4 separate regions of the Homo sapiens genome follow, and regions 1, 2 and 4 are each linked to region 3. Evidence: fine-mapped expression QTL. A gene starts in region 3. Each other region holds a variant in brackets. All regions are shown on one strand. Distances are between the middles of the regions.

Region 1 (5,150 bases), 150 kb after region 3:
GCAGGTATAATCTCCTATTTTGTGGCTTGCTTTTTTACTAATGGGGTCTTTTGATAAATAGAACATTTCAACTTTAATATAATCCAATAATTATAGTAATCATTTTCTTTCTCTTTCTAGGTAGTGCTTTTGATATTTTATTTTTTAAATCTTTACCTACTTCAAGTAAATGAAGACACTTTCCTTTTTTTAACCATAATATTTACTTTTTTACACTTTCATCTTTATTATGCAATCTATATGGACTTGGTTTTTTTCAAGTTGTGGAAATAGGGATCAAGATGTATATTACCTGTGAATATCCAACTGAGTCAGCACCATATATTGAACGGGTCATCCCTTCCTTGCTGCACTACATCATTACCTTTGTCCTCAGTTAAGTGACTATGTGTGTGGATCAGCTTCTAGACTCTGTTCTGTTTCACTGTTTTATTTGTTTATTCTTGCACCAATACCACATGGTATTAATTACTGTAACTTTATAAGAAGTCTTGATAGCTAGCAGTGTGTCTTCCAGCTGTGTTCTTTAAACACTCTCTTCTCTATTCTTGGTCTCTAATGTTTCCATGTTTCAGAATCAGCTTAATTTCCCCCAAGAAATCTGCTGTGATTTTGACTGGAATTGCATTAACTCTGTAGACCAGTTGGAAAATAACTGACATCTTTACAATATTGAGGCTTTCAATTCATGAATACAGCAGATCTCTCCATTTATTTAGACCTTCTTTATTTTTCCTCTGTAATGCTTTCCATGTAAAGATTTTTTCTCATCTTTCATTAGATTTATTCTCAGTTTATGTCTTCGATGCTATTGTAAATATTTTTAAATTTCATTTTTGAACTGAATATTGCAGATATATAAAAATATCATTGATTTTTGTAGAGTAAACGTGAATCCAGTAGCCTTGCCAAATTTACTTATTTCTAATAAATTTAATTGACCATAGATTCTTTTGGATGTTCTACATAAACAATCATATGCTTTGCAGTCTGTAACTTCTTTTCCTTGCCTTATTGCAATGGTTAAGATCTCTAGTACAATGTTTAATAGAAATAGTATTAGGAAATATTCCTAATCTCAAGGTGAAAGCTTTTAATATTTCACTATTAACTATGATATTTCCTGTAAGATTTTTACTGATCTTTACCAATTTAAAGATGTTTCCTTCTATTCCTAGTGTGTTAAGTGTTCACTATGAATAAGTATTTGATTTTATCAAATGCTTTTTCTGCATCATTCTATTGAGATATTTTTTCTGCCTTACGATGCTAATGTAGTGAAATACACTAATATTTAAATGGAAACATAATTCGTATATCTTGAAAGTCATCATTTTAAAGAGTACAATTCAGTGGTTTTTAGTATATTCACAAAGTTGTGCAATGATTACCATATAACTCCGGAACATTTTCATCACTGCAGAAAGAAACCTCATACCTACTAGCAGTCCTTCCCCATTCCCCTTTTCCCATTGGCAGCTACTAATCTACTGCCTGTCTGCAATATCTGTCTCTATGGATTTGCCTATTCTGAACATTTCATGTAAGTGGAATATGGCCTTTTCTGTCTGGTGTTTTTCAATTAGCATAATATTCTCAAAGTTAATCCATGTTGCCACATGAATCAGTACTTCAGTCTTTTCATGGCAGAATGATGTTTTATTGTACAGATATACCACATTTTGTTTACCATTCATCAGTTGATAGGTACTTGGGTGGTTTTCACTTTTAGTTTATTGTAAATAAGGCTAAAATGAACATTTGTGTACAAGCTTTTGGGGGTACATAAGTTTTTAACTGTCTAGGAATGGGTGTAAAGTGGCATCTTGTAGTTTCAGTGTTTCTTCAGTGACTAATGATGTTGAGCATCTTTTCGTGTGCTTGTTGGCCATGCCTACATCTTCTCTGGAGAAATGCTTACTCGAGTCTTTTTGCCCATTTTTAAATTGGATTGTTTACCTTTTGGTTGTTGAGTCATAAGAGTTCTTTATATATTCTGGATATCAGACCCTTATCCAATATATGATTTGCAAATATTTTCTCCCATTCTGTGGTCGTCGTTTCATCTTCTTGACAGTGTCTTTTTGAAGCAAAAAATTTTAAATTTTGATAAAGGCTTATTTATCTATTTTTTCTTCAGTTGCTTGTGCATGTGGTGTCATATCTAATAAACCATTACCTCATCCAAGGTCATGAAGATTTATGCATTTGTTTTCTTCTAAATGTTTTCTAGTTTTAGCCCTTATGTGTAGGTCTTTGATATGTTTTTAGTTAATTTTGCATATTGTATAAAGAGGGATCCAACTTCATTATTTCGCATGTGGATATCCAGTTGTCCCAGATAGTTTGTTGAAAATAAATCCAGTTGAATGGGTTGAAAACACTGATTTTGTGATGTTAAGCCAAAATCTTGCATTCCTAAAATAAATAATTCACTGAACTTTACTTTCTAATATTTTCTTTAAGATATTTATAAGTATGTTCATTAGATATAGTGGCCTATAATTTTCCTTTCTTGTAATGAACCTGCCACCCTTTGGTATTAAAATTATGGTAGCCTCAAAGTGAATTGGGAATTATTTTTCTTTTTGTATTATTTCAAACAGTTTGTATAAGACTAGTGTCAATTCTTTAAATGTTTAAAAGAATTTGCTGGTGAAGAAAAAAATCTGGACTGGGGATTTTTTTGTGGGAAAGTTATAGTTACAGATTCAACTTTTTTTTCTTTCTTT[T/C]TTTTTTTTTTTTTGAACACAGTCTCACTCTGTTGCCCAGGCTGGAGTGCAGTGGTGCGATCTCGGCTCACTGCAATCTTCACCTCCTAGGTTCAAGCGATTCTCATGCCTCAGCCTCCTGAGTAGCTAGGATTACAGGAGCATGCCACCACGACCAGCTAATTTTTGTATTTTAGTAGAGATGGGGTCTCACCATGTTGGCCAGGCTGGTCTTGAGCTCCTGACCTTAAGTGATCCACCTGCCTCAGTCTCCCAAAGTGCTGGGATTACAGGCGTGGGCCACTGTGCCCAGCCCAGATTCAACTTCTTAAACAGATATAAACAATTCAAATTTTCTATTTATTCTTTTGGGTTTGTTGTTGTTACAGGGTCTCACTCCGGTTGTCCAGGCTGGAGTGCAGTGGCAGCATCTCAGCTCATTGCAGCCTTGACCTCCCTGGCTCAGGTGATTCCCCCACCTCAGCCTCCTGAGTAGCTGGGATTACAGGTGCACGCCACCACGCTCAGCTAATTATTTGTATTTTTAGTAGAGACGGGGTTTTACATGTTGGCCAGGCTGGTCTTGAACTCCTGGACTTAAATGATCCATCCACCCTGGCCTCCCAAAGAACTAGGATTACAGGCACGAGCCACCATGCCCAGCCTTCTATTTACTCTTGAGCTGGTAAATTGTATTTTCCTAGAAATTCCATTTCATGAGGATTTTCTGATTTGCTGACAGAAAGTTCTTCATATTACATTCTTAGAATATGAAGGTTTGGGGTTTTAAAAAATCCCAGGCTTTTTCTGGGGTTTTATATTGGTAATCTGTGCCTTTTTTCTATTTTTAAAATAGAGTTTAGAGTAGTTTTGGATTCACAGCTAAATTGAGCAGGAGTACAGAGAATTCCCATATACCTTCTTCCCCCACACATGCACAGCCTTCCTCACCAGAGTGATACATTTGTTACAATCAACACATTATCATAAAACAGTTACACATCTTTATCATCCAAAGTCCATAGTTGATACACTAATGTTCACTATTAGTGTTATACATTCTATGGGTTTTGATAAATGTATAATGGCATTTATCCATTATTGTAGTATCATACAGAGTATTTTCACTGCCCTAAAAATCTTCTGTGCTCTGCCTATTCACCTCTCCTTCCCATCTAACCCTTGGCAACAATTCATCTTTTTACTGTCCCCATAATTTTGCCTGTTCATATAGATGATATCATACTGTAGGTAGCCTTTTCAGATTGGCTTCTTTCACTTAGCAATATGCATTTAAATTTCCTCTATTTCTTTTCATGGCTGGATAGATCATTTCTTTTTAGAGTTAAATAATATTCCATTGCCTGCATGTACCAGATTGTTTATCCATTTACCTGCTGAAAGACATCTTGGGCAATTACAAATAAATCTGCTATAAACATCTGTGTGCAGTCTTTCTGTGGACATAGTTTTCAGCTCATTTGGATAAATACCAGGAAGCATCATTGCTAGATTGTATGGTAAGAGCATGCTTAGTTTTGCAAGAAACTGCCAAACCGTCTTTCATCATAGCTGTGCCATTTTTCATGCCCATTAGCTAATTCCCATTAGCGTTCCTGTTGCTCCACATGCTCACCAGCATTTGGTGTTGTCAGTGTTTTGGAAAATCACCATTGTAATAGGTATGTCATGGCATCTCATTATTATTTTATTCTGATGAGCATCTTTTCATATGCTTATTTTCCATCTGTATATCTTCTTTGGTGAGGTGTCTGTTCAGATCTTTTGTCCACTTTTTAATTTAGGGCTTTTTTTTTTTTCTTATTGCTGAGTTTTAAGAGTTCTTTTTACAGTTTGGATAACAGTCCTTTATCAGATGTGTCTTTTGCAAACATTTTATCCCAGCCTGGGGCTTATGTTCTCATTTTTTTGACTTTTTTTTTTTTAAATCAGTCTTGCTAGAGGTTTATCAATATTATTAGTCTTTTCAGAGAACCAATCTCTGGGTTTGTTGCTATCCTTTTTCTACTTTTTGAGATGCGTACTTAGACTGACTTTTAGCCTTTTTTATGCAAGTTTTGATGTCATTTAAAAATTGCCATATAGTTCCAAATATTGTCTAACATCTACTGCAATTTATTTTTGAACTATCAATAATTTAGAATTGTAATGTTTAATTTCTAAATATTTCAGGCTCTGCTGGGGTTTTTAAAAAATTGATTTTTAGAGTAATTTCACTTTGGTCAGAGAACATATTTTAGGTGATTTACCCTTTGGAATTTGTTGGGACTTACTTTAAAGACCAGCATATGATAAATTCTGGTAAAAATTCAATGGGTGCTTGGAAAGAATACCTCTTCTGACACTGCTGGTTATAGTATTCTATGGACATTAATTAGGTTAAATTTATTATTCATTTTATTGTAATCATCCATATTA
Region 2 (5,150 bases), 66 kb after region 3:
GTCAGACAAGCCCCTATCTCACCTGAAAGGATCTACACGTAGCCCAGGGAAGAGGCAGTTTTTAGCTAAATGTCCCAACAAAATATTCTTCTGTCTGACCATTAAGGCTCTGAGAACACAGGACTTGCTCAGGAATGCGGGACTCTCTCCCACTGCATTTAATCCTGACACACTGGGCCTGCACAGTGGGCCAGGCAGGCTCCAGTGTGCAGGTTGGGGAGGGGAGGTAGAATTTGTTCTTGTACTAAAAGGCATTTTTAAAAGCCACATTTTTTCTCAAAAGCCATTGAGATCTGAAAGTCCTAGAAGTTCAGCTTTGCCAATAGCAATCTTCTCTGATTTCTGAATGCAATGTCTCAATCACTTCATTCACTTGAGCTTTAATTAACAATAATCCACCAAATCCCACTTCAGCATTATGGTGAAAAAACCTTAGCAGGACATATTTACCAAAATAGAGGCCCTCATAATAGGAAGAATAATAATGCTATATGTATAAGACACTTTAACTCCTAGTTGGCGTTTGTCCCCCTCTGGAGTTCTTAGACTTCACCGTCTATACTAGATCTTAAATAGTGACATTTACCCCCTTGTACGCCATACTCCTTGTTCTGAATTTCTCCACTACTGAATGCGGTCTTACTGGCTGAACATGGGACGTTTGCCTTCTAATTTCTCATTGCTTCCTGATCCCCACTCTCCCGTCCAAAATAATGAATGAATGGATTAAAGATATTAATAACCCTAAACAAAATACAGCTGAAAACATGGAACCAGAAAAAGGAAAGTTAAAGTTTCAGAACAGTCAAAATAAAAATGATATCAAATTGCTTCTCTAAACATACGTGTGTATATCCATATTTATTTAACTTTCATCGAGTTAGATGAAACTAACTGGTTTCATGCTGGTAAAACTATTTTTGTTTGTAATCAATCAAAAATAATACAGGCATATCTGCTTTGTTTAATGCTTTTAAATTGTTGGAAAGATTGTTTCTTTGTAGGATATTGTTCTCCCAAACAAATCAAGGAGTCCTCAGTCATATAGCATATGGTATCCATTGGATAAATAGAAACTCATGGTTAAAAAAAAAAAAAGGTACATTTAAAAAGTTGTACTTAAGTATAAATTAGGCATCATTACTTTTTTTTTTTTTTTTTTCAAAATGTAGGGCTACTTTTCCTTTGTAAATTCTATAAAGCAAATCTTCCCAAGTACAGGATTTCGGGTGAATACTATTCAATATCCAGAAACTAAAGTCCCAAACGTTGCACGGGAAGCTCGTGGCAGGTAAGCCCCGTGGACACAGGACTGTGGCCGGGAAGGCCCCATCTAGAGCCGCCCGAGGTGCACTCAGAGCCGGCACACTATTCGAATTGTCTGAAACAAGCACAGCTTTGACAAGCCTCACGATATTAAGTTTCTTCCTTTGCGAAGGATGCAGAGCAAAGCAGTCAACAGCCCTCCCTCCACACCTGGCTTTGGCCTGGGACTCTTCCTCCCAGTCCCCAGCCAAGTTCCCTTTCAGGATTAAGAAAATACACCAAATGAGGGAGCCAATGACAGCCTGTAAGGCAGGACAAATCCTCAGCTCTCATCGTGACTTCTCAAAGCAAACTTGCTCCGCGGAGGGGAGAGGGAAAATCATTTACTTTAAGGTGCTATAGAAAACTGGTCATCGGGACTGTGGGGAGTCTCCCTGAACCTGGAAGCTCCCAGGTTGAAACCAAAACTTCCAGGAGCTCCCATCATTACCTGTCCTGTGGGCACTGGGTCTTCTTGGGTAACCTTCCCCAGCTTGCCCTACACCGGAGCTGCCAGCAAATAAAAGTTTTCACGCTGGGCGACATCGCTACCCTGCTGAGCTGCATGTAAACTTTCCCTTGCCCTTCTGATGTACTTACTTTTTTCTCAGTGAAAACAAACAAAAATCAAAGGGAACTCACTGCTTCCAAATGAGTTTGTGTCACCGTCCCACCTAGCCATCCAGAGACCCTCTGACCTTCCTGTGACAGTCTAAGAAAGGCAACGTTTTCCTCTCGGCCACACAGGGATGCTTTAGAGTGCGGAAAACCAGGATGAAAGAACAGGCATGGGGAGATATTTTTATCCATTGAGAGAGAGAGAGAGAGAGAGAGAGAGAGAGAGAGAGAGAGAAAGGGGACAGAAAAGGACCCGCAGAGTCTGGGGAGGAGAAAGGGAGAAGTTGGGTTACTCACATGCTTGGGGCTGGCGTGGAGGACGAGGACTGGGCTGGGGTGGAATGTGCGGCCCCTCAGGTGCTTTCAGTTGCTGATAACTCGTTGCTCCGCTCCTCCGGTACCAGCTGACAGTCCCCTGTCTGTGTCTCTTTGTGACTAAGGACACAGTACTCCCAACCTATAAATAGATCCCGACTCCGTGATTGATATAACAGGCAGCTG[A/C]CAAAAAAAAAAAAAAAAAAAAAAAAGTCTCACAACCATAACCAGGTCTTAAACAAAACAGCAAAAAGCTCTAGACTTCCAACTCCACCCAGCCCCATGCAGACTCCACAGCCACTGATGGACGCAGGAAAGTGTGGAAGAAAAATACACCATGAAGGGGAGGAGGAACTGGGGGAGGGCAAGTGAAAAGGGGGGATGTGTAAGACAATGACTTCTCTAGTGGTGTGCGGCCGTCACTTGGGGTCACAGGGGAGCTGGTGACTGATGGTCGGCAGAAAGCAAGGGGAGGAGCCAGGGCAGGAGGTCCTGACCTGGAGAAGGAGAGCCGCCCCCCTCCGGATCCTGAGCCCGTGGCCCTGTCAGGGCCCGAGTCAAAGTCCTGACTTGGGAGCATTCGTCAGCTCAAGTGCTTTCCACGAAAGTTTCCATTCCTCCTGCCAAATTAGGAGGCAGGGAGGGAATTCAGCTTTCCCAGCTCAGGGGCCAGGCAGGCTTCTTGGGGGCCATGCAGAAGGCTCCTGGAGGGTGAGAGAGGAAGTGCAGTTGCCTGGTGAGGCCAGGTCTTTGAAGAGGCCAAGAGATGGCGTTCCCAACAGAAGAACGGCCTGAAGTTGAAAGGCCCTGGGGGTGTTAATGTCTCTGCTTTCTCCAGAAAGATTTAGGACGTCAAGTCGTCTGAAAAGATTTCCTTTTTGGAGAACAAGCCCCGCTCTTTGGGGTACCGGAGGGTCTCTAAGAAGCACTGCCTGTCCCAGTTTCTACAAAGTTGGGGCCGCCTCTCTGGGATAGGCCAGTCCAGCTCTGAAAGCTGAGCCAAGGGGCTGTTTCTGGAAGTTGGAAGAATCATGGTGAAACGGCACAAGTATGGGCTGTTCAACAATTAACCAGGTGAGCATGCATTACCCCAGGGGGCTTCCCATCTGCCATCTGGAGACCCACTTGCTTTGACTACACAGGGTCACCTGTCTTGATTTTCTGGATTTCTTGTGCATGCTAAATGAGGCAGAATTTCAGGTGAGTTTCCCCTTCAAGAGGGGTCATAGGATGAACCCCTTGCTGGTATGGATAAGGGACAGGTACTTCATAATCCCTAAAACTTCCTGATCCCCAATTTTTAAAAGAAATGAAGTTGAACCTCCTCTTCATGTTAGATCTAATCCTTTACTCTCCAGGTTATCAGAAACTATGAGGATGGGGTGGTATCTAAGCTGTTGAAGTCAAAAACCTATTAAACGTGTAGGGCCTCCAATCTTTCCACCAGTAGCCTGCCATTGCAATATGAGCTCCAAGAAGGTAAAGACTATGTGTTTGTCTCATTCATCATCACATCCCCATAATACCTGATCTGTAGCAAGACCCTCCTGAGTATGGATTGATTGACTGACTAATTGAATGAAAGAGTGATACTTAAGATACTGTCATTTGAGCCACTCCTTTGGACTAAGTAAGATACTCTCTAGAAATGTCTGTATCATAAGAGTGTCCCTAGGAAGGCCCAGAACTGGGAGTGAGACTTCAGGCAGATATAGTCAAACTGCTGTATTTTCACTCGCAGTTTTATCTGAGAACCACTGCCCTTCTGAGTACCAGGCCAGTGATGCCAGTGGTCAGCCACCAGGCACTCCTGTCTACTCAGGCCTGGCCACACACAGGGTTCCCTGCAAGTTTAGTTGCTGGAAAAGCAGATAACCCTGCAGAGACAGGGCTCTAGAGAGACTCCCATTCTGATGACTGGGGCTATAGCCACTTACACGCACATTCACCACCAGGCTCCTTCCCAGGGAAAAACCTTTCTCTTCTGATGCAAACTGAGGACTTCCCTCCATGATTTTCTTTCTCCTCCAACTCTTACCGAGCCCTCGCTGATCTCTGGCAGACATCCTGCAGCCCCTCCTAGGGCTTCCACAGCCCCCTAGCACAGCACCCTGTCTGTAGGAAGGGGTCAGTGTTTGGGTTGAACCCAGCCACCCCTCTCCCTAGGAAGCCCCTGTGGCACCTTTGTTTTGGCTTTTTATCTCAAGGTCGACCTCTGTATCATCTCACAGTCTGGTTCTCAACTCTGCCAACTGAACCAAGCCTTGGTGTCTGCCCCCTTGAAGCTGGCCTGGGGGCAGCAGGGGTCTGCTGGGACCAGCTGATAACCAGCGGCATTTCTCTCTGCTCACAGGGGCTCTCTCGAATGGCAGGTCATCATCTTAGGAGACCCCAGGCTTTTGCTTGCAGGAGACTCATCATGGCCTCACTTTCTCATCATAAAACCTCTCCAGCTTCAAGGGCCAGGCCTGCTAGTCCACTCGGAGCAGATGCACATCCGGACACACACCTCTGAGCCTGTCAGATGGGGCTGTTAAGCACAGGCTCTGGATCGGAACTCCCTGGGTTGGAATCTTGCCTCTTCCGCTTGTTATTGGGAAACTCTAGAAAAATTCCTTAGTATGTCTGTGCTTCAGTTTCCTCATCTGCAATGTGGGAATTCTAAGTGTCTATCTCATAGGATTGTCATGAGGACAAAATGACTCAACACAAAAGGATGCTTAGAATAATGCCTGGCCCATCCAGTGTCCTGCCTACCTGAGCCACATCACTCGATCTTGCCTTGGTTCTTCCCAAAAAACGGGAAGCGGCACTGGCAGGGCAAGTACCCCACGGCAAGGCGTGCTCTGGCCACAGAGCTGGCCAGAGGTCAGAGGTCAGGAAGAGAAGACCGCATGGGGACTTTTGGAGTT
Region 3 (5,150 bases):
CGGACGGTGGGGAAGATAGCCCCCCTTGCTCTCTGGACTGTTTGCCGTGGGTCTCCAGCTGGTCCAGTCATGGACCCATTTGTACACAGGCACACACAGGCGAGCACGCTGCCTCCCACTCTGGGTGATTATATATGTACATAAAATATTGATTAGAATGGGTAATGGAGTCACCTACAGGATTGGCTACAGGAAAATGAAAATGAAGGAGAGCAAGGTAGGAAGGTACGTATGTTTCTCTCTGTGTGTGTTCATTTCTCACCTGGGAAAGTGAGAATGATTCTACAGCATTAACAAATGCTCTCTATGTGTTAGAAGCAAAAGGGAGGACCAGAGAGTTCCTCCTCCCTCAACTCTAGTCCCTGTGCCCTTGGGTTTTCTCAAGTCTGGGAATGTCAGCCAATCCACAGGGGTCAAAACAGTGAGCAGAGCATACACGAACCCACTTACTGTATGTTCCCTGGGAAATGCCGGCACTATAATGAATGGCTTTGTCCTACTATCCTTCTACCAAACCAAAGAATCCAGTCCCCTGCTCTGTTACTTTACTACCCATGGCTCTAAAGCTGTGTCACAAAGCCATGGGGTAGAGGTCAGAAAGATGTCTCCCCAGACACCAGCCCCAGACCTCCACAAGCTCGTCCTTGAAATGATGCCCCTCTGCGCCACAGCACATGCAGACCCTCCCTAGGCGGCACATATATGTATAAGAGGCCAGCTCATCAATGCCTGGGCTGCTGCCCAGTGGGTCCTGGGCTTTGAGAAATGACATCTGACAGGGGTGCTCAATTCCTCGGTGGAGACAGCAGGTATATTTTTGGCTTTTCCTGTGCCCCATGGAGGGACAAGCTAATTCTTTGCAAAAAAAAACCGGAAAGGGTTGGGGATCTAAACCTCTGTCAGGCTTAGTTTATAAATGATTTCTATCTCAAACCTTTCCCAGACCCCCAGGACCTCAGCTCCCTGACTTCCTTCTGCTGCTTCCCTGACATTGCCTTTTTGCCCATATTTCTCCTCAAACTCCAGTCAGGGCTGCCGTCAACTCGATGAATTACCCAGCTGTTAAAGCCTCCATCTCACTCCTTGCTTTCCTGGTAAGCATAATCAAAGAATGTACTTCCTTCATACGAATTTTCATATTTATTGACTATGACTTGAGCCAGGGACAAATACATAAGTATTTCGTGCTCAACTAAAGAAGTCACCTCTGGAGAGAGGGAGCCTTAATAATTTAAATATCCAATATTTGTCATACTTGATCATTTTATGTAAGGAAATGCTCCACAAGCACCAAATACTGTCCACAGCCTCACTAACCTCAGGTGCTCCCACCCCATCCCCACCCCAGCTAGAATCTAACCTTTAAAAGGAATGAAAGCCACTTTTCAAGCTGATGGAAATCGGAATCCATTATTATTAAGGATTCCTCTCCCAGACCAGCGCCTTCTGCCGACATTCTGGTGGCATCTAAAAGGCCCTCTGCCCCAGGGTGGAGTGGGGAAAATCCCCAAACTAGAAGCAGGAACAGTCTGGTCAACAACACAAGCCATGCTGTGGACAGCTGCCCTCTCTCTCAAGCGGGGTGCACCGTGGTGGAGGTGCTCCATGCAGCCAGGAGAGGGGTTAGGTACTTCCTGGGACCCCACATGATCCAGAGTATTTATTTTAGAGATGTAGTCGTGGTTCTTGGGGGGAGGGGGAGAGCGAGTGGTACACAAATGAAAGCACGGTGGAACTGGAGAAACGCTGACTTGGAGAATTTAGTTTGCGTCAGAAAAAAAAGAGGAAGACGAGCACAAAGTTAAGCAGGAAAGCTGTCCGTAAGAACCTAGAGTTTTATGTATTATTATTATTAAGCCTTCCGAGGGACCACTTTGCACGCGCACACAACCTGCCTCCGGGACACCCGCCGGGGGCGCCGTGGGGTGCGCAGCGCCCAAGGGGAGACCCGGGCAGGTACCCGAGCAGGTGGAGCGGCGACCGTGGAGGGTGTCGGGAGGGAAACCGTAGGTGGATAGAGTGGGATCCCCGAGAGCCCGGACATGACACGCGGGTTGACCACCCGCTGCTTAGGCGATCAGTTCACTTTCCCACTCTGCGCTCTTGGCGCGCTGCCCCGGGGCTGGAGACCCGCGGTTTCTGAGAGTCGCTTCTCGCGGCGCCGGCTGCCGCCCGCGCCCACGCCGCTCGGATAACCCCAGGTTCTGGCACCGCGAGCGCAAAGCCGCCTCGGAGCAGGGAAATGGTGCCCTTCTGTTCCGCTGGTCACAGCCTCCCCCAAAGCCGAGAACGAACTTTGCCTACGACGCAGCGCTGGGCCCGCATCCCCCGGGCGCCCTGGATCCGCCGCGCCACGTGCGCACCCTCGGGGCGCCCCACGGAGACCGCGAGGCGAGAGCGGCACTGGCCGCCTGCAGTTTCCAAACCGCCGCGGCACGTTCGATTTTCTCTCTCTTGCCGGGATCATTTTTGGTCCCCAGGATGGAAATAATAAAACAAAGCGCCCGCGGGAAAGGCTTTCTCTGACGGGACAGGACATCCTTGCAACCACATCCCTGCACCTGTTCTGGGCTTCTGCCTCCCTTCTTGCTCCATTCCACAAAAACTCAAATATTTTCTCACCCCGGAGCAAGATCAGAGAGGAGAGAGAAAGGGAGAAAGTGCATGAGAAAGCGCCACTCTTGCCTGAAAGTGTGGATTTGTAAAAGGGGGTGCGGGAAAAAGTTAGAGGAGGGTTTATGCCCTAGAAAGAAACCCAGAAGTGTGCGGCTTTTCCCCTCCTTCGTCCCCCAAGTGCCCCCCCGAAGTCCCTTCCACTTTTACACAAGAATGTGCAGAAAAGGAACTGCGATCCCCAGGACAGAGACTGCCAGACGGGCAGAAGGACAGACAGACCGAGAAGCAGGGCACCTACTGGTTGTGGTAGCCGAGGGGGTCCGGGATGCAGAGTTCGGACACGTCCATCAGTCCCGTTTTAGCATTCCCAGTTGGTAGAGAAAGACGGCGGGGAAATCACGCGGAAGAGCGAGTGAAGGGCACGGGCAAGGTGCGAGCCCGGGCAGGGCACAGTGAGCGCGAGAACGCAGAGTGGGAGGAGGCGGCCGCGGCGGGGGAGAGGGAGGCAGAGAGCCGTGCGCGCACAGCCCAGCTCTCCACTCATCCGCACGCTCCGGAGAGAGCGGGCAGAGGGGATGCGAAGCCGTGGAGGAGGCTGGGGCACAAGAGACTTGGAGCCCACTAACCCTACTGTAGCTTTAAGGCTGGGAGACTGATGTATAGTTTGGCTCCTATTGGCTATCTCTCAGGGGCTGGACTTAAAGTGACAGAATCAAGCTGGGGTGGGGGGAGGGGGTGAGACAGAGAGACTTCATGGAATGAGACGCTCAGCGCGCGAGGTCCCCACCTCCTGAGCAGTAGGAGTACTGGGTGTTAGAGCCCTAAGGCCTGCCTTCTCGCAGTTAAAGGGGGGTGGGGGGGAATGTCCAACCGCCAGGTGGGTCTGGGGTGGGGGGAGATTTATTGCTTACATACCCCCCGGGCCACCCCTATCCCATCTTTTAACTGGCAGGTCTAGCAAACTCACCTCTCAGCCTTTCTGGAATGGATCTGTTTTCCAAATTAAAAATGAGTCACATTTCTCCACCCACGCACCAAAGAGAAGAGGCAGCCTCAAACCCTGCGCTGTGTGCGCAAAAGTGCAAAGGGTCAGGCCAGCAGGTGAGGCACAGCAAGAAGGCAGGAGAGAAACAGATTCCCTTCCCAGTTCTCATCACCTGGGCCAGTCAGTTCTGCACCACTCTCATATGGCTAGATGCAGGGTGCGCATCTATAAAACGTTCTCTCAATGTATGAAGTGATGCTCTAGTCATTGGCAGCTCTCTGAAATGTACCCAGGACACAGACATGAGCAAATAAATTCCTGTCTGCTTAGGAAAATACAATCGTGGTGAAAATGATCAACTTACCCGCCACATCCACTCCAAGGCACAAGTACACACTTTGAAATACACACCTGAATCCCCAGCTACAAACGCACCTGCATCCCCGTCCGCTGCTCCCTCAGTGAACCCGAATATTATGGGATGCCACTGTACCAAAATGAGCTGTAAGTCATGCCCCAGCCCTGCTTCTGGGTTTTTCATCTTTTGAGATGCACCAGCCACAGGGATAATAATCAATTTGATGATTCAAATGAGTGTGGGGAGGGGGGTAGGTATAGAATTATTTAAAAGGGGGGAAAAGCCCTCAGGAGACACCACCACCTTATTCTCCTATATTCTGCAGAAGACAATGAGCAGTAGGGGGGAAGACATAATTTTATCATCAAAATAATGTCTAAATGGAGTGTAACTGCAGGCAATGTTCAAGCACTTCAGGAATAAAGGCAGGGAGGGTTGTGAGAAACCCCAGGAGGGGCCAGCCGCCTGGGCAGGGGCTGGGAGAGTGGGCAGAAGGATCGCAGATGATTTTTGACTTGGATAAATGTGCTCGTGCAGGTTGGGAAACAGAGCTGAGATTTTTCATATGTGCTGAAGTGGAGGAACAAGTGGGATTCTCTGGGCGCAAGGCTCAGGAAGGCATCTCACAGAGAGATGGATGAAGATGTCTCCTCTGTCAGTAGCCCCCCAGCAGCCCCCGATTTTTAAAAATCACATAGGTACTTCATCAGAGACAGAAAGAGGGGTGCAGGGATGCTTCCCTTGAGCCTGGCTTCTATATGACCATCATCTCTCACCAGGACCTCAGTGACTGGTTTTTCGGCATCCTTTCTGCCCTGCTGAAATCCATTCTCCAGGCACACAGCAGCCAGGGAGCGATTTGTAAAATGCACATCCAATGTCCCGTTGTTGCAATTAGGAAAAAGGCCCCAGTCCTTGGCCTCCAAGGAAGGCATCCTATGACAGCTTCCTGCAGGTCCCTCTGTTCCTCTCCACAGCCCCTGCTGCTTTCCCTCTGGGCCCCAGTCTTTACATCTGCCACCTAGAAGGCCCCACCTTCCATATAGTGCCAGAATCTTCTGTGGTTCCTTTGCTTTGGGTAGTTTATCACAGTTTGCAATTGTCTGTGTACTGGCATGAGTGATAATTCCCTCCTCCACCCTTCCCTCACTAGACTGTAAGCTCCATGGGAGTAGGGACCATGTCTCTTTT
Region 4 (5,150 bases), 110 kb before region 3:
TATTCTCTGTGGACGTATGTAAAATTTTTAATATTATTTTGCATTCATTTATTGTTAATAAAAGATTTGAACTAAAAAAGTGGCATCCTTTTCTGTGTTAGATCAGGTTCCCTGGGAGCAGAGCCTGAGGCAAGGGTTTAGGTACAGACATTTACGGGGGGCATGTGTTCAGGAGAAAGGAAGTGGGGAGGCAGGAAGCACAGGGAAGGAGAAAGCAAGGCAAAGATGGGACCTCGGCTTCAGCCTGATCCCATGCAGGGCTCTGATCCGAACTTTTGTACCCATGTGGGTCCACCATTGCCTGGTGGTGCCAAGGAAAGGGCCACATAACCCTCTGGGCAAGGCAGAGGAGGGTAGGCCCTGCAAAGGGGTACCTCTGAACTGTTAGCAGCTAGGGGATGGATGCACTAACCCAGTAAAAGGGATCCAAGTGGGTCATCAACAGCACCCCCTGCATGCACCATGAAGCCATGTGCTAGGGCAACCAACTGTCCCAGTTTGCCAGGGACTGACGAGTTTCCTGGGATATGGGACTTTCAGTAAAAGCAGGACAGTATTGAGCAAACCAGTTGGTTACCCTGTGTGTACTGTCTGCATCTGGGAGCCAGTTCTCCCTTTTCCATATGCTAATAACACTTTGTATCCTCTATCATTAATAGTAATGATAATAATTAATATTTATTGAACATTTCCTCTAGGCCAGGCACCAGGCTGAGTGCTTTATTGTCAGTCAATCTTTAATACTCACAAAAGCACTTGGGGCTGGGCGTGGTGGCTCACACCTGTAATCCCCTCACTTTGGGATGCCAAGGCGGGTGGATCACTTGAGGCCAGGAGTTTGAGACCAGCCTGGGCAACATAGCGAAACCCCGTCTCTACTAAAAATACAAAAATTAGCTGAGTGTGGCGGTGCACGCATGTAGTCCCAGCTACTCGGAAGGCTGAGACACGAGAATCGCTTGAACCCGGGAGGCAGAGGTTGCAGTGAGCCGAGATTGCATCGCTGCACGCCAGCCCAGGCCACAGAGTGAGACTCTGTCTCAAAAAAAAATAAAATAAAATAAAGTGCTTGGAAGAGGTGCTCAGAATATCCCCACTGAACACACAAGGACACTGAGTTACCCAAGGTCATACTGCTAGGAAGTGTCAGAGATAGAATTTGAACTTGGGTCTATCTGACCCAGACCTGGGCAGTTAACTCTGCCACACACTGCTCTGCAACAGAATTATGTGTGTGATTCCTGGCATGTGTTCTCTTTAGGGAGGGTACCCTGTATTTATCCTTCTCCTGCAGCCCCCTGGCACCCAGCACCATTCCCTGAATAGTGTGGAAGCTCTCTAAGTGTGGATGTTGGTTACATTCAAGTTCACTTACTGGCATTACCCAACGCCTGCCTCTCTCCTCAGATAATCTAGCCAGAAGTTGGTGGATGCTAATGAAATGGAGTGAGTCCTCCTTTGTAACTCCAGCTTAAACCACTCAGTTGGGAAGGTTTTATCCTCCTGTGTTCAAGAAATTTGACTGAAAGATTCAAGGAGTGGGTATAGGTTCAGGTTGATTTTGGAATCAGAGGACCTTGGTTTGACTCTTAACTCTGACACTTTTTAACTGTGTGACCCTGGGTGATTTTCTTTACTTTTTCAGGTCTCAGTTTCCACATCTGTAAAATGGGGTTGCAACAATAAGAATTTTACTCTTGGGTTGTTTGTAAGAATTCAATAAACTCCTAGCTAATTTAATAAGTTGACGCTGAGCGTGGTGGCTCATACCTGTAGTGCCAACACTTTGGGAGGCTGAGGTGAGAGGATTGCTTGAGCCCAGGAGTTTGGGACCAACCTGGGCAACATAGTGAGACCCTATCTCCATAAAAAATAGAAATAAGAATTGGCCGGAATAATGGCACATGCCTGTAGTTCCAGCTACTCAGGAGGCTGAGGTGGGAGGATGGCTTGAGCCCAAAAGTTTGAGACTGCAGTGAGCTAGGATCAAGCCACAGCACTCCTACCTGGGCGACAGAACAAGACCCCGTCTATAATAAACAAATAAATAAATAATTGAGTGCTTTTTATGTGCCAAGCATGTTGCAAGCAATATAATTATGTATAAAGAAATCCTGTCAATAGCCTTGTAGAGTAGGGACTGTTTGGCTGCCCTCCTTTTACTGATGAAGAAACTGAGGCACAGAGTGAAGCAACTTGCCCAGTTGGTAGACGTGGGATTTGCTCCTTAGCAATGTGGCCTCAGAACCCATGTCCTTAGCCAGTGTGCCAGTCTGGATGTCTGAGGCTTAGGAAATGCTCAGCCAGTGTCAGCCTTCATCACCAGCTTTTTATCTGCAGGCCACCCCTTGGACAATCTTCAGTAATAAAAAGTTTCAGTGTTTTCCTTTCATCTCTATCCATGGCAGCCAGCCCTGCCCACAGGCCCCAGGGATGGGCTCATTAGGCCCATGCAGAGCCCTAGAAGCTCCCCTTCCAGGCCCCGCCGCCGCCCTTACCGGAGTTGGCGAGGGCCAGGGCCTTGAGCGTCACAAACTCCTCCTTCTCCACCTTGAGCTTCTTGTACCTGCGTACCAGCTGCAGGATGGCCCGGTAGAGCTCCAGCAGCCCCGCGAGGCGGGAGTGCTCCTCATCCATGATGTAGTCCTCAGCGTACACCAGCTTGTCGTCATAGGGCAGCGAGCGGTACACGATGCCCAGGATGAGGATTTCCATCCAGGCACTCTGCAGCAGGCTCATCTGGTCCCCCAGGGAGAGGCTTGAGAAGCCTGCAGGAAGAGGGGGCACAGAGGGCAGCAGCAGGTCAGGAGGGCGGACCAGGGGCCTCCCTGGGGCTCGCTGGGGGCAGAGGTTGCAGGGCGTGGCTGGTTGCGGGGTGTCCCTGGCACCCCTGGATCCTGCCCCCAGGCTTTCCCTGTGTAGCGTAAGACTCACTGTCCTCCCCTTGGGGAATGCCTCAGACTTGGAATTCACGGAAAAGACTTACAAAATGAGAGCTCAGTCAATGTTGACAGTTGTTGTTATCATTATGATTGTTAGCTCTATGGTATTTTCCAAACGTCTGTAGAGGCTTTTTGTTTAATTCAATGCATTTGTAGTTAAAGGAGTGACTGAGTACATACTGGAACCAGGAGGCAGCAGTACGTGCTCTCGGCCACTCTGGGGA[G/A]TTTCCAGGGCCCACTCTCTGCTCAAACCAGGGGAGGCTTTGGTATTTGAAAATGACACCTGATCCTTGATGCAGTCTCAGCTGTGCAGAGACCCACGGGCCTGACCAAGAACGAGGACGCAGCTGTTCAAAGCCACAGGGGAAGGCCCCAGTGACCATAGCCTGGGGCTGCTAAGAGATCAAGAGCCCCCGGGGTCAGGGGCACTTTCTCACAGGACAGCCTGCTCTCCCAGGGTCGGAGCCCCTCTTCCCGGGCCATAACTCTCTGCTTAACGATGACCCAGCAGGCCTGTTCCGGGAGCTTGGAATCATGCTAGTTCCCCCCTCCCTGCTATTTGAGGAGGCTGATTCCACAGTGAAAATAAAGTTGGGCATGGAGAAGGCTCCAGAACTGTGACACTGTCTTGCCCAGTGAACTGTGGGGATTGCCTGGGTTGAACCCTGACTCCCGCTTACTAGCTGTAGGCTGAACTTGTGAAAACCATGCAACTTCTCCAAACCTTAGCTTCCTCATCTAGGAAATAGTATAATAGTAGGGTCTACTTCAGAGAGTTGCTGTGAGGTCTAAATGAGACGATGATTCCAGAATATACAAAGTATTTACTGAGCTATTATTACTAATGATGAGATGAAAGTTCTCACTGCAGAACAATGATAATGTACTGGAATTGCATTATACATGCACTTAAATTAGGCAAAGTCAATTAACATCTTGATTTATAGGAGAGTAAGAGAGAGTAAGTAAATAAATAAGTCAGCTGATTTTCAAGCATCTTAACCACCAAACACAAGGCAGTAACTTCACTGGAGATTCAAACAGAAACTCAGTGATTGGTTCTAACACGGACATGCTGGATTTATTCAAAGAAGGAAGGGCATCCACAAAGTTGTTTGCACCATGCACTATGGGTAACTGACATGAAGGGATTTTTTTCAGGGGTAATTTTGCCTAGGAAGGACTTTCTACTTCATTTGCTGACTTAGACCCCATCCTTGGCTGGAAGCCACTTTCTGATGTGGGGTGCTGTGGGGGCGAAAAGAGAAGATGCATGTACAGTGCTGGGCACCTCTCCCGGCGCCATCAGCACTCAACATGCTAGGGTGCTGGTCATGGCTGTGGCTGTTGTTACTAAATATTGTTGTTGTTGTTGGCACACCATTGGCATCACTCACTTCTCCTCTCTGGACTTGCCTGGAGGCCTGGGTGGTCCTGAGCTTCTGGACCACCCAGCTCTTTGGCTTGTGTGGTCTCCCCCATCCATCTGCTGTCCTGTCTCCAAATGCCACTTCTTCCCTGGCTTCCACACAGGGCATGGCAGTTGAACCTTAGGGGTCACTCCTGGAGCTGAAGGTCCCTGACCAGGCAGACCACCCTTACCCTGTGAGCATTCTCCAAGTGAATTATCACAGTTCCCAAGACTGATCTATACAACTTGGGCCTCAGATCACCACTGGCTAATGGAATCCATGGGTGATCAACAAAAGAGCAGGAGTGATTACACCGACTGACACGGGGGAGCTTTGATTGATGCACCTTCTCAGGGGAGAGGCTGTGACAGGGGATCAGGGTGTGTGTGTGTGTGTGTGTGTGTGTGTGTGTGTGGTTGTCCAGATTCCCTGCATGGGAGAGGGTGTGTGGCTGCCTGTGGTGGCCGGGGGAGCTGGGAGGTAATAAAAGATAGATAGAAATGGACATCCAATTTCCCTTATCAGGTCTTTGAGTAGGAGAGAGGCCTTGGGCAACATTAATTAACAGATACCAATCAGCCAGCACCGGAGAGTGTGTTGGGGGGAGTGTTGGACAGCTCTAGGGAGGGGGTCTAAAAGCAGACAGACTGGAGGGGAGATGGAGGAGGAGGGCAGGGGTGAAATTAGCAGACAACTGAATTGGAAGGTGGTGGAGAGAGAGGATGAGGTAAGGACTAGGCTTCTGGAAACGCAGGGGAAAAGTCCCCTGTGCAGTGAATCCTGCAGGTACAATCAT

Which allele goes with the higher level. Alleles are on the strand shown, and positions count from the first base shown. SD is a standard deviation of normalised expression in the study named.
For the expression in prefrontal cortex of the gene that starts at base 3,229 in region 3, allele C in region 1 goes with a higher level than allele T (moderate effect, 0.42 SD a copy in ROSMAP).
For the expression in skeletal muscle of the gene that starts at base 3,229 in region 3, allele A in region 2 goes with a higher level than allele C (large effect, 1.0 SD a copy in FUSION).
For the expression in lymphoblastoid cells of the gene that starts at base 3,229 in region 3, allele G in region 4 goes with a lower level than allele A (small effect, 0.31 SD a copy in GEUVADIS).

The links.
Region 1: its variant is fine-mapped to the expression of ESRRB in prefrontal cortex (ROSMAP, PIP 0.90).
Region 2: its variant is fine-mapped to the expression of ESRRB in skeletal muscle (FUSION, PIP 0.95).
Region 4: its variant is fine-mapped to the expression of ESRRB in lymphoblastoid cells (GEUVADIS, PIP 0.95).

Annotation. Positions count from the first base shown.
Region 1 is chr14:76,220,551-76,225,700 of GRCh38, reverse strand. It overlaps a transcript of GPATCH2L not described here. Among named protein-coding and RNA genes, the nearest start is that of GPATCH2L, 71 kb to the right of the region's middle. The variant T/C (reference allele first, on the strand shown) is at 2,733.
Region 2 is chr14:76,307,987-76,313,136 of GRCh38, reverse strand. LOC105370575 (a long non-coding RNA gene) reads left to right here and starts at 2,718. Exons shown (of 4, transcript XR_001750833.3): 1 at 2,718-3,312. It also overlaps a transcript of ESRRB not described here. RefSeq lists an enhancer at 2,702-3,315. The variant A/C (reference allele first, on the strand shown) is at 2,425.
Region 3 is chr14:76,374,216-76,379,365 of GRCh38, reverse strand. ESRRB (estrogen related receptor beta) reads right to left here and starts at 3,229. Exons shown (of 7, transcript NM_001379180.1): 1 at 2,915-3,229. The coding sequence starts at 2,964.
Region 4 is chr14:76,489,065-76,494,214 of GRCh38, reverse strand. ESRRB (estrogen related receptor beta) reads right to left here. Exons shown (of 7, transcript NM_001379180.1): 6 at 2,499-2,768. Among named protein-coding and RNA genes, the nearest start is that of ESRRB, 120 kb to the right of the region's middle. The variant G/A (reference allele first, on the strand shown) is at 3,167.